Homo sapiens: one gene and its partners. The protein of the gene in region 1 purifies or fractionates together with the protein of each later gene. This does not show direct contact. Each region holds a gene or a part of one and is shown on either strand. Other genes may lie near its edges. The genes, in order: SLC41A3, LETM1 and ABCF1.

Evidence for each region.
Region 2: the proteins of SLC41A3 (region 1) and LETM1 purify together in Homo sapiens (affinity purification with mass spectrometry; one large-scale study listed by BioGRID and IntAct). This does not show direct contact.
Region 3: the proteins of SLC41A3 (region 1) and ABCF1 purify together in Homo sapiens (affinity purification with mass spectrometry; one large-scale study listed by BioGRID and IntAct). This does not show direct contact.

Annotation. Positions count from the first base shown.
Region 1 is NC_000003.12:126,074,079-126,077,729, reverse strand, and holds part of SLC41A3 (solute carrier family 41 member 3), read left to right. Parts: intron 1-3,651. UniProt on the Homo sapiens protein: Na(+)/Mg(2+) ion exchanger that acts as a predominant Mg(2+) efflux system at the mitochondrial inner membrane.
Region 2 is NC_000004.12:1,849,635-1,853,285, reverse strand, and holds part of LETM1 (mitochondrial proton/calcium exchanger protein precursor), read left to right. Parts: intron 1-3,651. UniProt on the Homo sapiens protein: Plays an important role in maintenance of mitochondrial morphology and in mediating either calcium or potassium/proton antiport. Mediates proton-dependent calcium efflux from mitochondrion.
Region 3 is NC_000006.12:30,574,413-30,578,063, forward strand, and holds part of ABCF1 (ATP-binding cassette sub-family F member 1), read left to right. Parts: intron 1-2,996; coding exon 2,997-3,043; intron 3,044-3,405; coding exon 3,406-3,501; intron 3,502-3,651. UniProt on the Homo sapiens protein: Isoform 2 is required for efficient Cap- and IRES-mediated mRNA translation initiation. Isoform 2 is not involved in the ribosome biogenesis.

The DNA of each region.
Region 1 (3,651 bases):
TCTTCCGTCAGCTCCTCCTGAATCCATAAATTCCTTGGGAAAATGTTTTACCAGCAGTTGGGAGGCATAAGCCTACCACCTCATTCCTTACCTGAAACTGTGATTGACAAGCAAGGATGACAAGCAGGCATGTAGACATTTTACTGAACACGGGCCAGAGATGTATACTTTCTATCAAATAAAATCCAGGATCTAGAACATGGATTAAAAAAAACAGTGAGTGTGTGGGCCTGTGTCTGTGTGGGTAAACATTGGAAGGATATACACTAGACTTGCACTGATTATTTTGGAATAGTGAAATTGTCAGTGATTTTTAAAGTGTTATTTTATTTATTTATTTATTTATTTTTGAGACAGAGTCTTACTCTGTCCCCTAGGCTGGAGTGCAGTGGTGCGATTTCAGCTCACTGCAGCTTCCGCCTCCCAGGTTCAAGTGATTCTCCTGCGTCAGCCTCCTGAGTAACTGGGACTACAGGTGTGCATCACCACACCTGGCTAATTTTTTGTATTTTTTGATAGAGATGAGGTCTCACCATGTTGGCCAAGCTGGTCTCAAACTCCTAGCCTCAAGTGATCCACCTGCCTCTAGCTCCCAAAGTGCTGGTATTACAGGCATGAGCATCGTGCCCAGCCTCGTTATATTATTTTGTATTGTCTAAATTATATTTTTTATTAACACATGTCACTTTTGTAATTGGAAAAATAATCCAGTTATTTTCATTTTGGAAAGGAAAGGAGGCTGAGGTGGTTTATTGATTGTAGAATAGATGAAGAGATTGTGGGGCAGTCATACAGTTCAGTTTTCTACAGCAATAAAATAGATTCGGCAGCATGGCTGAATCTCAGAAATCTAATGTCAACTGAAAGAAACTGGACATGAAAAGAATCCGTGGAGTGTTACTTTGTTGATCTAAATCGCAAAGTAGGCCAAACTCAGCTGTAACACTTAGGGCTGCACACATTGTAAAACTAAAGAAAAAATAAAACAGATCGAGGAATGGTCATCCCCAGAGTGAGGCTAGTATCACCTCGGGTGGGGAGGAATGAGTTGTTATCAGAGAGGGGCTCAGAGTGGAGAGGCTGGTCATGCTTTGCTTCTTGAACTTAGTGGGAGTATAAGTGTGCTTGCTTTAATATTATCTCATAAATGATTCATAATTTTTTTATTGTGATATAAAGTTCATACCATAAAATTCACCCCTTTTAAATGTACAGTTCAGTAGAACAGAAAACTTATATTCACACAAAGACTTGCACATGAATAGTCATAGGAGTATTATTTATAATAGCCCCAAAGTGGAAATAACCCAAATGTCTGTCACTCATTAGTGGGTAAGCAAAATATGATATGTCCATGTAATTGAATATTACCCAGCTGTAAAAAGGAATGAAGTACTGATTCATGTAACAACATGGATGAAGCTTGACAACATTATGTTAGGTGGTATCTTACTGTGGTTTTGATTTGCATTTTTCTAACAATGAAGCTGAGCATCTTTTAATGTTAAGTGAAACCATTGTTTCATGTGCTTATTGGCCATTGTACATCTTTGGAGAAATGTCTGTTTAATTCCTTTGTCATTTAAATTGTCTTTTTATTGTTGAATTGTAAGTATTCTTTATATATTTGGGATACTAAACCCTCATTAGATATAATGATTGGCAAATACTTGCACATTTTGTGGATCGTCTTTACTTTCTTGAGAGTGTTCTTTGAAACACAACTTTCAAATTTTGATGAAATCCAATTTGTCAGTTTTTTCTTTGGTTGCTTGTACTTCAGATATCACATCTAAGAAACTGTTGCCTAATCCAAAGTCCCTGGGATTTACACCTGTATTTCATTCTAAGTGTTTTAGGTAGTTTTAGCTCTTATGTTTAACTCTTTAAGCCATTTTGAGTTAGTTTTTGTATGTGGTTTGAGGTAGGGGTTCAAATTCATTCTTTTGCATGTGATTATTCAGTTGTCCCAGCCCCGTTTATTGAAGACACTACTCTTTCCCCATCCAATGGTTTTTATACCTTTGTCAGAAATCCATTGGCCATAGATGCATGAATTTATTTATAGACTCTCAGTTCTGTTCTGTTAATCTATATTTCTATTCTTTGCCAATACCAAGTTTTACAATAAGTTTTGAAATTAGGAAGTCTGTGTTCTCCAACTTCATTCTTTTTTTTCAGGATTTTCTGTTCCCTTGCATTTCCATTTGCATTTTAGAATCAGCTTGTCATTTTCTCCAGAAAGAAAGAAAGAAGGAAGGGAGGGAGGGAGGGAGAAAGAAAAAAAAAAGACCACTGGAATTTGAATAGGGATTGTATTAAACCTGGAGATCAATGTTTTATAGTTTTCAGGGTACAAGTTTTGGACTTCTTTTGTTAAATTTGTTCTGAAGTTTTCTTCATTTCTTGCATTTCTATTGCAAATGCAATTGTTTTATTTATTTACTTTTAGATTATTCATTATTAGTGTATAAAAATAAAACTGGCCGGATACAGTGGCTCACAGCTGTAATCCTAGCACTTTGGGAGGCTGAGGCAGGAGGATCAGTTGAGCCCAGGAATTTGAGACCAGCCTGGGCAACATAGCAAGACCTCATTTCTACAAAAAATAAAAAACTATAGCCAAGCATGATAGCATATACCTGCAGTCCCAGCTGCTCAGGAGGCTGAGGTGGGAGGATCACCTGAGCTCAGGAGTTTGAGACCAGCCTGGGCAACATAGCAAGACCCTGTCTACAAAAAATAAAATACTAGCCAAGCATGGTGGAATATGCCTGTAGTCCCAGCTGCTCAGGAGGCTGAGGTGGGAGGATCACCTGAGCTCAGGAGTTTGAGACCAGCCTGGGCAACATAGCAAGACCCTGTCTACAAAAAATAAAATAGTAGCTGAGCATGGTGGAATATACCTGTAGCCCCAGCTACGCAGGAAGCTGAGGTGGGAGGATTACTTGAGCCTAGGAAGTTGAGGGTGCAGTGAGCTATGATCGTGCCACTGCACTCCTGCCTAGGTGACAGAGTGAGAGCCTGTCTCAAAACAACAAAAAAAAAACAACAACCAAACAACCCAAAAACCCAAACAACAACAAAACAAAAAAACTGACTTTCGTGTATTGACCTGCGTCCTCCAGTCCTACACCTTGCTGAACTTGTTTACTGGCTGTAATAGTTTGTGTGTATGTGGATCCCTTATGATTTTTTACGTATAAGATTATGTCGTCTGTAAACAGGGATAATTTTACTTCTTCCTTTTCAAGCTGGATACGTCTCATTTCTTTTCCTTGCTGAATTGTGCTGGCTAGAACCTCAGGTACAGTGTTTAATAGAATTGGCAAAAACAGGGATTCTTGTCTTGTTCCTAATCTTAGTGGGAAAACTTTCAGACTCTCGCTAAGTTTGTTAGCTTTGGGTTTCTCACAGATGCCCTTAATCAGGATGAGAACATTCCCTTCTATTCCTCTTATCATTATCAAATATCCTTCTTTGTCTGTGGTAAGAATTCTTGTCTTAATGTCTAGGAATAGAAGGGAATGTCCTCATCCTGACTAAGGGCATCTATGAGAAACCCAAAGCTAACTTTTTAAAGTGTTTTTATCGTGAAAGAGTGTTAGTTGTTGCCAAATGCTTTTTCTGTGTCTGTTGAGCTATGTTTTC
Region 2 (3,651 bases), on another chromosome or scaffold:
AGCAGAAGCAGGGCTGACTCCAAGGGCTGTGTGGGAGAGGGGGCCTCTGGCCTGAGCCGCCTGGGGACAACAGTGAGGGCTGTGTGGGAGAGGTGGCCTCTGGCCTGAGCCGCCTGGGGACAACAGTGCCATTTGTTGAAACTGGGGAGGACTTGGGGAGGAGCAGAATGAGGAGGGGCGCTAGTTGAGAGTTCTTGGAGGTGTGGACTGTGCCGTGCCCATCAGACCTGTGGGGCGTGTGTATTCAAGTCAGGGAAGAGATTGCCTGGGGAGGAGGTGGAGGTCAGGTAGGGAGGCTCTCCCAGGAGTGGCAAGGGTGAAGCCAGGTGAAGAAAGGTTTGTTTGTTCTTTGACCTGATCCTGGCACCAGCACTGAGGGCTGAGAACCCTGGAAGTTTCCTGAATGATGGGAGTGTCTTTTTTCATTTGTTTGTATTTTGAGACAGGGTCTTGCTCTGTCACCCAGGCTGGAGTGCAGTAGCTTGATCATGGCTCACCACAGCCTCCAAGCGATCCTCCTGCCAGCTGATGTTTTAACATTTTTGTAGACAGGGTCTCTGTTGCTCAGGCTTAACTCCTGAGCTCAACAGCGATCCACCTGCCTTGGCCTCCCAAAGTGCTAGGATTACAGGCGTGAGTTTGGGAGTGTCTTCTGTTATTCGTTATCACTGCACCTGAGTTTATGCTGATGAGGTGACTCCAGGCAGGCCCTTAGATAGATTGAGGTGCTGGCCATGCTGTGATTAGAGGGTGGGAACTTCCTGCCCCTTCCAGGGAGGCGAGAGGGTTTGGAGATTTAGTTCAGTCCCCATGGCCAGTGGGCCAATACTGTAATCAGTCATGAAGCCTTGATGAGAACTTCTGGGTGAGGAGGCTGGTGAGGCTTCCCACTGGCGTCCACCTAGCTCCACAGGACAAAGGATCCTGTGCTCGGGACCTCCCTGGCCATGCTGTCTGGTTGTTCCTAGGTACCAGGTACCCTTTATAATAAACTGTGACAGTAAGTAGAGCCCATTGCTGACATCTGAGTCATTCTTGTGAATGATCAAAACCAAGGCGGTCATGGGAACCCTCAAATGTGTGGTCAGCTGAAGTTGGGTAAGCCTGGGCACATGGAGTGGGGGCAGTCTTGTGGGACTGAGCCCGTACCCTGTGAGGTCTGCACTAACTCTGGGTAGTGTCAGTATGGAATTAAATTGTTGGACTCCCAGTTGGAGAATTCGTTGGTGTTGGAAAAAAGAACAGAAGGGCTCCCAGCAGGGCCTGGGCACAGATGACACCTGTGCTCGTGAGGGACGTGGAGCAATGATCCCCATCACCCCGAACGGCCTTGACTGGGGGTTCCTTGGAGAGCTGGGGACAGAAGCCGTCAGAACAGGTTTTGGGGAGAGCCTAGTAAGGGAGCCAGTGGGACAGGCAGTGTTAGAGAGAAGGTAGGGTCACTGGGGGACAGATCAGGGAACTCTGGGAGACCTGCCAGCCTGCCTGCTTGCCGGGCGGAGCCCTTGAGGCACAGGAGCTGGCCGGGGCAGGGGTGGAGGGGCTGAAGGTGCCATGGTGTGGGGAGGATAGCGGAGAATGCGCTGGGCCCTCTTCATGTGGAGAAAGGTGGGGGCCAAAGCTAGTCTCAGCTGGAGTGAGAAGGGCCTTGGCATGCTCACGTGTGCTGTGCTTTGAATTTTAACTTAAAATGTAACTTGCTGTGTATGAGAACATAGCCAACATTTTCCCCTTAACCCAGCTCCCAGTTCACAGACCGGACTGTTACAAGCCCTAAATGTGGCACGTAGTAGGAATTTCCTTCCCCACAGAACCAGGAGAGTTGCCTCCTGTTAAATGAGGTGAAGTGACGTATCGGTCCACTAGGAGCAGGGTCAGTGCCTGCCCTCCCCATCTTGTTCGTCCTCTCACGGTGGCTCTCGTTGCCGGCTGGAGTGAGCTCCCCCCATCTTAAAGCTGCACTTGCTGCTCCCTGGCTGTTGACTCATTGCAACCCCACTGCTTGGAGGTTCAAGGTCACTGGGCATCTCAGGGTGCTACCTGCTGGCTCCCGGCACCGCCTAGCCTCTGCACAGCCTGGCCTGGCACCTCCGTGGGCTGGTGCCTCTGGCCCTGCTGCTCCTATTCCTGTCTTGTTCCCAGCATGAAGTTTGATCACAATGGGCTCTGAATGTCAGTAATACGAATGAACTCTGACTTTATGCTTATAGGAACTAGAGCAAGTTAGGGAAAGCATCAAAAACATGTTGAAATCCTAAAAATGTGCTGTACACTTATCACTGTTGTTTATACAAGAAATGGCTTACTCTTGGTGTTTTTGTGGTTCTTCTCTTTTTTTTTTTTTTTTTGAGTGCAATGGCGCGATCTCAGCTCACTGCAACCTCTGCCTCCCGGAGGGTTCAGGTGATTATCCTGCCTCAGCCTCCCGAGTAGCTGGGATTACAGGCACCTGCCATCATGTCCGGCTAATTTTTTTTTATTTTTGTGGAGATGGGGTTTCACCATGTGGGCCAGGCTGGTCTTGAACTCCTGACCTCAGGTGATCCACCCGCCTCAGCCTCCCAAAGTGCTGGGATTACAGGCGTGAGCCACCATGCCCGGCCTGTGGTTCTAGTAATTCTTTTTTTTTTTTTTTTTTTTTCTGAGACAGAGTCTTGCTCTGTCGCCCAGGCTGCAGTTCAGTGGTGCGATCTCAGCTCACTGCAAGCTCCGCCTCCCGGGTTCACGTCTGTGCTGGGATTACAGGCGTGAGCCACTGCGCCCGGTCCGGTTGTAGTAATTCTTACAGCTCTTGCCCCTTGGGATCATTGCTTGCTCTATAGGGCTGTCTGCATAGAGGTCATGTTTCCACCAGAGCCAGCTGAAGTGAGTGGGGATGGTGCCACCGGTAGGAGTGCTCCCTCCCTAGGGCTGGCCTGCTTGGCTTCCCTCTTGGGGTGTCTGGAGTCAGGATCTACTTGAGGCTTCCCATCTTTTTTTAGGACTACTTTGAGATACTGTTTTCATAACTGGGGCAGACCCTTCACTTAGCAGTGCTCTGAAACCTTCCAACACTCAGAACTGGCTTCCAGAAACTTACAGAGGTTTCTACAAAAGAGATCTGTACTCTTTCAGATTTTTTTTTTCTTTTTGAGACGGAGTTTCACTCTTGTTGCCCAGGCTGGAGTGCAATGGTGCGATCTCAGCTCACTGCAACCTTTGCCTCCCAGGTTCAAGCTATTCTCCTGACTCAGCCTCCCAAGTAGCTGGGTTTACAAGCATGTGCCACCATACCCGGCTAATTTTGTATTTTTAGTAGGGATGAGGTTTCACCGCTGGTCAAGCTGGTCTTGAACTCCTGGCCTCAGGTGATCCACTCGCCTTTGCCTCCCAAAGTGCTGGGATTACAGGCGTGAGCCACGGCGCCCCGCCTTCTTTCAGACTTAAAAGAAGGTTTCAGGCTGGGAGTGGTGGCTCACGCCTGTAATCCCAACACTTTGGGAGACCAATGCAGGAGGGTCGCTCGAGGCCAAAAGTTGGAGACCAGCCTAGGCAACAAAACGAAACCCCGTCTTTACAAAAATTAGCCTGGCCTGATGGTGCACACCTGTAGTCCCAGCTACTTGGGAGGCTGAGGCAAAAGGATCCCTTGAGCCCAGGAGTTCAAGGCTG
Region 3 (3,651 bases), on another chromosome or scaffold:
AGGCGTGAGCCAGTGTGCCTGGCCACAAAAGAGATTTAAAGGAAGGAGAGATGGTATGGCTGTGTTAGTCCTTGGGGAGAAATTAGTGTCTGGGATGAGTCAGTCATCTGTGTTGATAAGGTGAGCTGATCAGGTTTTTCCTTCTTAGGTACTTCAGTAGATCCTTCCTCCTAATGCCTTTAGGATTAAACTCCTTGGAATAGCATATAAAGCCTTTTATTATTAATCCTGCACAATTTTTCAACTCTCACACTAGTCACCCAATACTGGGCTCAGATTTTTTTTCTTTAACTTTTTTGTTTGTTTTTTGTGGTTTGTTTTTTGGGGAGGAGGAGGGCCCCAAACTTTGAAATGTGTTCTGGATGGAGGATGCAGATTAAGCAAAGACAGACATAAGCGTGCCTGGGACTTCATAAAGGAACAGAAAGAAGCCAGTATCGAGACCAGAGGTGTGGGTAGGGAAACAGAAAAGATAGGGTAGGGCCATTTTAGTCTGTGAAGCCTTTAATTATTGGAATTGTCTCTCGTTAACTCTAGTTTTTTGGAGAAGTAGATGCACCATAAAACTTTCCTGAATAAATGATTACTTTGAAATACATGGAATTCTAGTCTGAGAATATTTTAATGTAGTAGATGGCGGATACCATTGACTTTTTTTCTTTTTTTTTTTTTTTTTTGAGACAGTCTCGCTGTGTCACCCAGGCTGGAGTGCAGTGGCGCGATCTTGGCTCACTGCAACCTCCACCTCCCAGGTACAAGCGATTCTCCTGCCTCAGCTTCCCAAGTAGCTGGGACTACATGCGTGCTCTGCCACGCCCAGCTAATTTTTGTATTTTTAGTAGAGATGGGGTTTCACCATGTTGGCCAAGCTGGTCTCAATCTCCTGACCTTGTGATCCACCCACCTTGGCCTCCCAATGTGCTGAGATTACAGGCCTGAGCCGCCGCACCCGACCAATTTTTTTTTTTTTAATATTAAATACTGAAATGCTTAAGGGTAGAATTAGATAGCAGTGAATGGAAGGGATGTTTTGGAAGAGAAGATAATAAATAGGCCTAAGCCTGAAGGGAAATCATGAGGCTGCCTCCAGTAGGGGAGGGAGTTGGACATGGTCCTCTACCTTCAGGGAAACAAGGATGGAGAGGGGGAGAGCTAGAATCTGTTGAATCTGTTTTGGCTTTACTGGGAACACAGGCTAAACAGTCTCTCAGGTTACTCTCTAGAATGAAAGCACACAGACAGGTAAATATGACACAATGTGATTTGTGCTATAATATTCAAGCAGAACAAGTAAGGCATAGACTGAGGTGTTCATTTGCTTACCAGATAACTCTATTTACATGGCCTATAGGTTTTACAAACAACGTGTCCCCCTGGCCAGGCACAGTGGCTCAGGCCTATAATTCCAACAGTTTGGGAAGCTGAGGCAGGAGAATTGCTTGAGGCCAGAGGTTCAGGATTAGCCTGAGCAACATAGTGAGACCTCCTCTCTAAAAATTATTATTTTTTTAATTAGGCAGGCATGGTGGCGCTTGCCTGTAGTCCTAGCTACTCAGGAGGCTAAAGTGGGAGGATCACCTAAGCCTAGGAATTTAAGGTTACAGTGAGTTATGATCATGCCACTGCATTCCAGCCTGGGTGACAGAGCAAGACCCTGTCTCTTAAAAAAAAAAAAAAAAAAAGGAGGGTGTGTGTGTGTTGTATACATGTGTGTGTATCTACACATATCTCCCAAATTGAATTTATAATATCTTCTTCCTTCCTATAAGACCTTCTCTTCCACTGCCTCCTTAATTAATAAATGGTACCACTTAGCCCAGCTAATTTTGCCAGCTAAAAACACAGGAGTCATCTCTGAGTGCTCTTTTTTTTTTTTTTTTTTTTTTTTTTTTTGAGATAGAGTCTTGCTCTGTCACCCAGGCTGCAGTACAATAGCGTGATCTCAGCTCACTGCAACCTCCGCCTCCTGGGTTCAAGCAATTCTCCTGTCTTAGCCTCCTGAGTAGCTGGGATTACAGGCGCCCGCCACTATGCCTGGCTAATTTTTTGTATTTTTAGTAGAGACTGGGTTTCACCATGTTCACCAGACTAGTCTTGAACTCCTGACCTCAAGTGATCCGCCTGCCTCTGCCTCACAAAGTGCCGGGATTACAGGCATGAGCCACCGCGCCCGGCCGGGTGCTCTTTATTCCCCACCTCTAGCCCCATCCTATGAATTCTTCTTTATGTCCGCTTGTCACCACCACCCAGACTACTCTGACAGCCTCCCCAGTGGATTTCCCACTATGCTTATTCCCTCCGATTCTTGCTGTACTCTGAAGCCAGAGTGAAACTTTAAAGTGTGAAAGTGATCATACCAATAAAGTCCCCATTCCTTAACCTTGCTACAAGGCCCTCACTCCAGCCTTACCTTGCACCATTCTCCCCTCAGTCTGTAAGCTTAGCCATACCAAACCTTTCCCTGTCTCTCAGTGTGTGTGCTTTCTCACAGCTGGGCCTGTGCACAGCACTGGAATTACACCATGTGTCTGACTAACTTCTCATACTCCTCATTACTTCAGTTATTTGCTTAAATGCCATCTTCTTAGAGAGGCCGCCACCAGAGATGAAGCCAGCCTCTCCCCCACCACCAAGTAGGCTTTACCTTTTCTTTTGGAACCTTCAGTACACCTGGAATTACCTATTTAAAAATCTCTCTTCCTATAGCCTGCAAGCTCCAGAGGAGACCACATTTGTCTTGTTCATTGCTATGATCCCCTACGCTAGCACAATATCTGACACATGGTAGCTGTTTAGTAGATACTTAGTGGATGAATGAATAGAGATGGGAATGATTATTTCTGCAGGAGTTGTGAGACAGTACAAATATTTAAGGAGTGATAGTTAAGCTAGAAAAATAATAAAATAGGATAGAGGCTACAGAGATCTTTGCAGGGGGGATCAGACTGCTTTGGAATTTGCAGATAAGCATTCACGATGTCCGCTTAACTTTCTAGACAAAGTGGTGAAGAAAGGGAAGAAGGACAAGAAGATCAAAAAAACGGTGAGAAAATGAGGGTTGAGGATAAGAAATGACTATGGATGTTTCCAAGCTAAATAAATAGCCATGTGAAGGAGGTGGGAGGTCCAAGGGAGGAGAAAAGATCTTGTCAAGAGAGGAGATAGGCAGGGCACGGTGGCTTACACCTGTAATCCCAGCGCTTAGGGAGGCAGAGGTGGGAGGATAGCTTAAGCCCAGGAATTTGAGACCTGCACACTCCATTCTCCACAAAAAGAAAAAAAAGAGAGAGACAGGAGGTAAGGTGAGGGTGGAGTGGAGGGCCAGTGGGCCAATGTGTGGCAGAGCACAGCCTGCTTGGATTGCTCTTGGAAACATGTTTACCTGTAGCTTAACTCCCTTTATAGTTCTTTGAAGAGCTGGCAGTAGAAGATAAACAGGCTGGGGAAGAAGAGAAAGTGCTCAAGGAGAAGGAGCAGCAGCAGCAGCAACAGCAACAGCAGGTACAAGTGCCACAGGGCCCACCAATCCTGGGAGGCATCTGGGTTCCACCAACCCCTTTCCAGCCCATGTTGCTCCATTCAGCTGATGGGGAACCCTCTGTGAGGCAGAAATACAGCAGGGGCCTGGGCTTCATTTTCTCACTGTTCTTT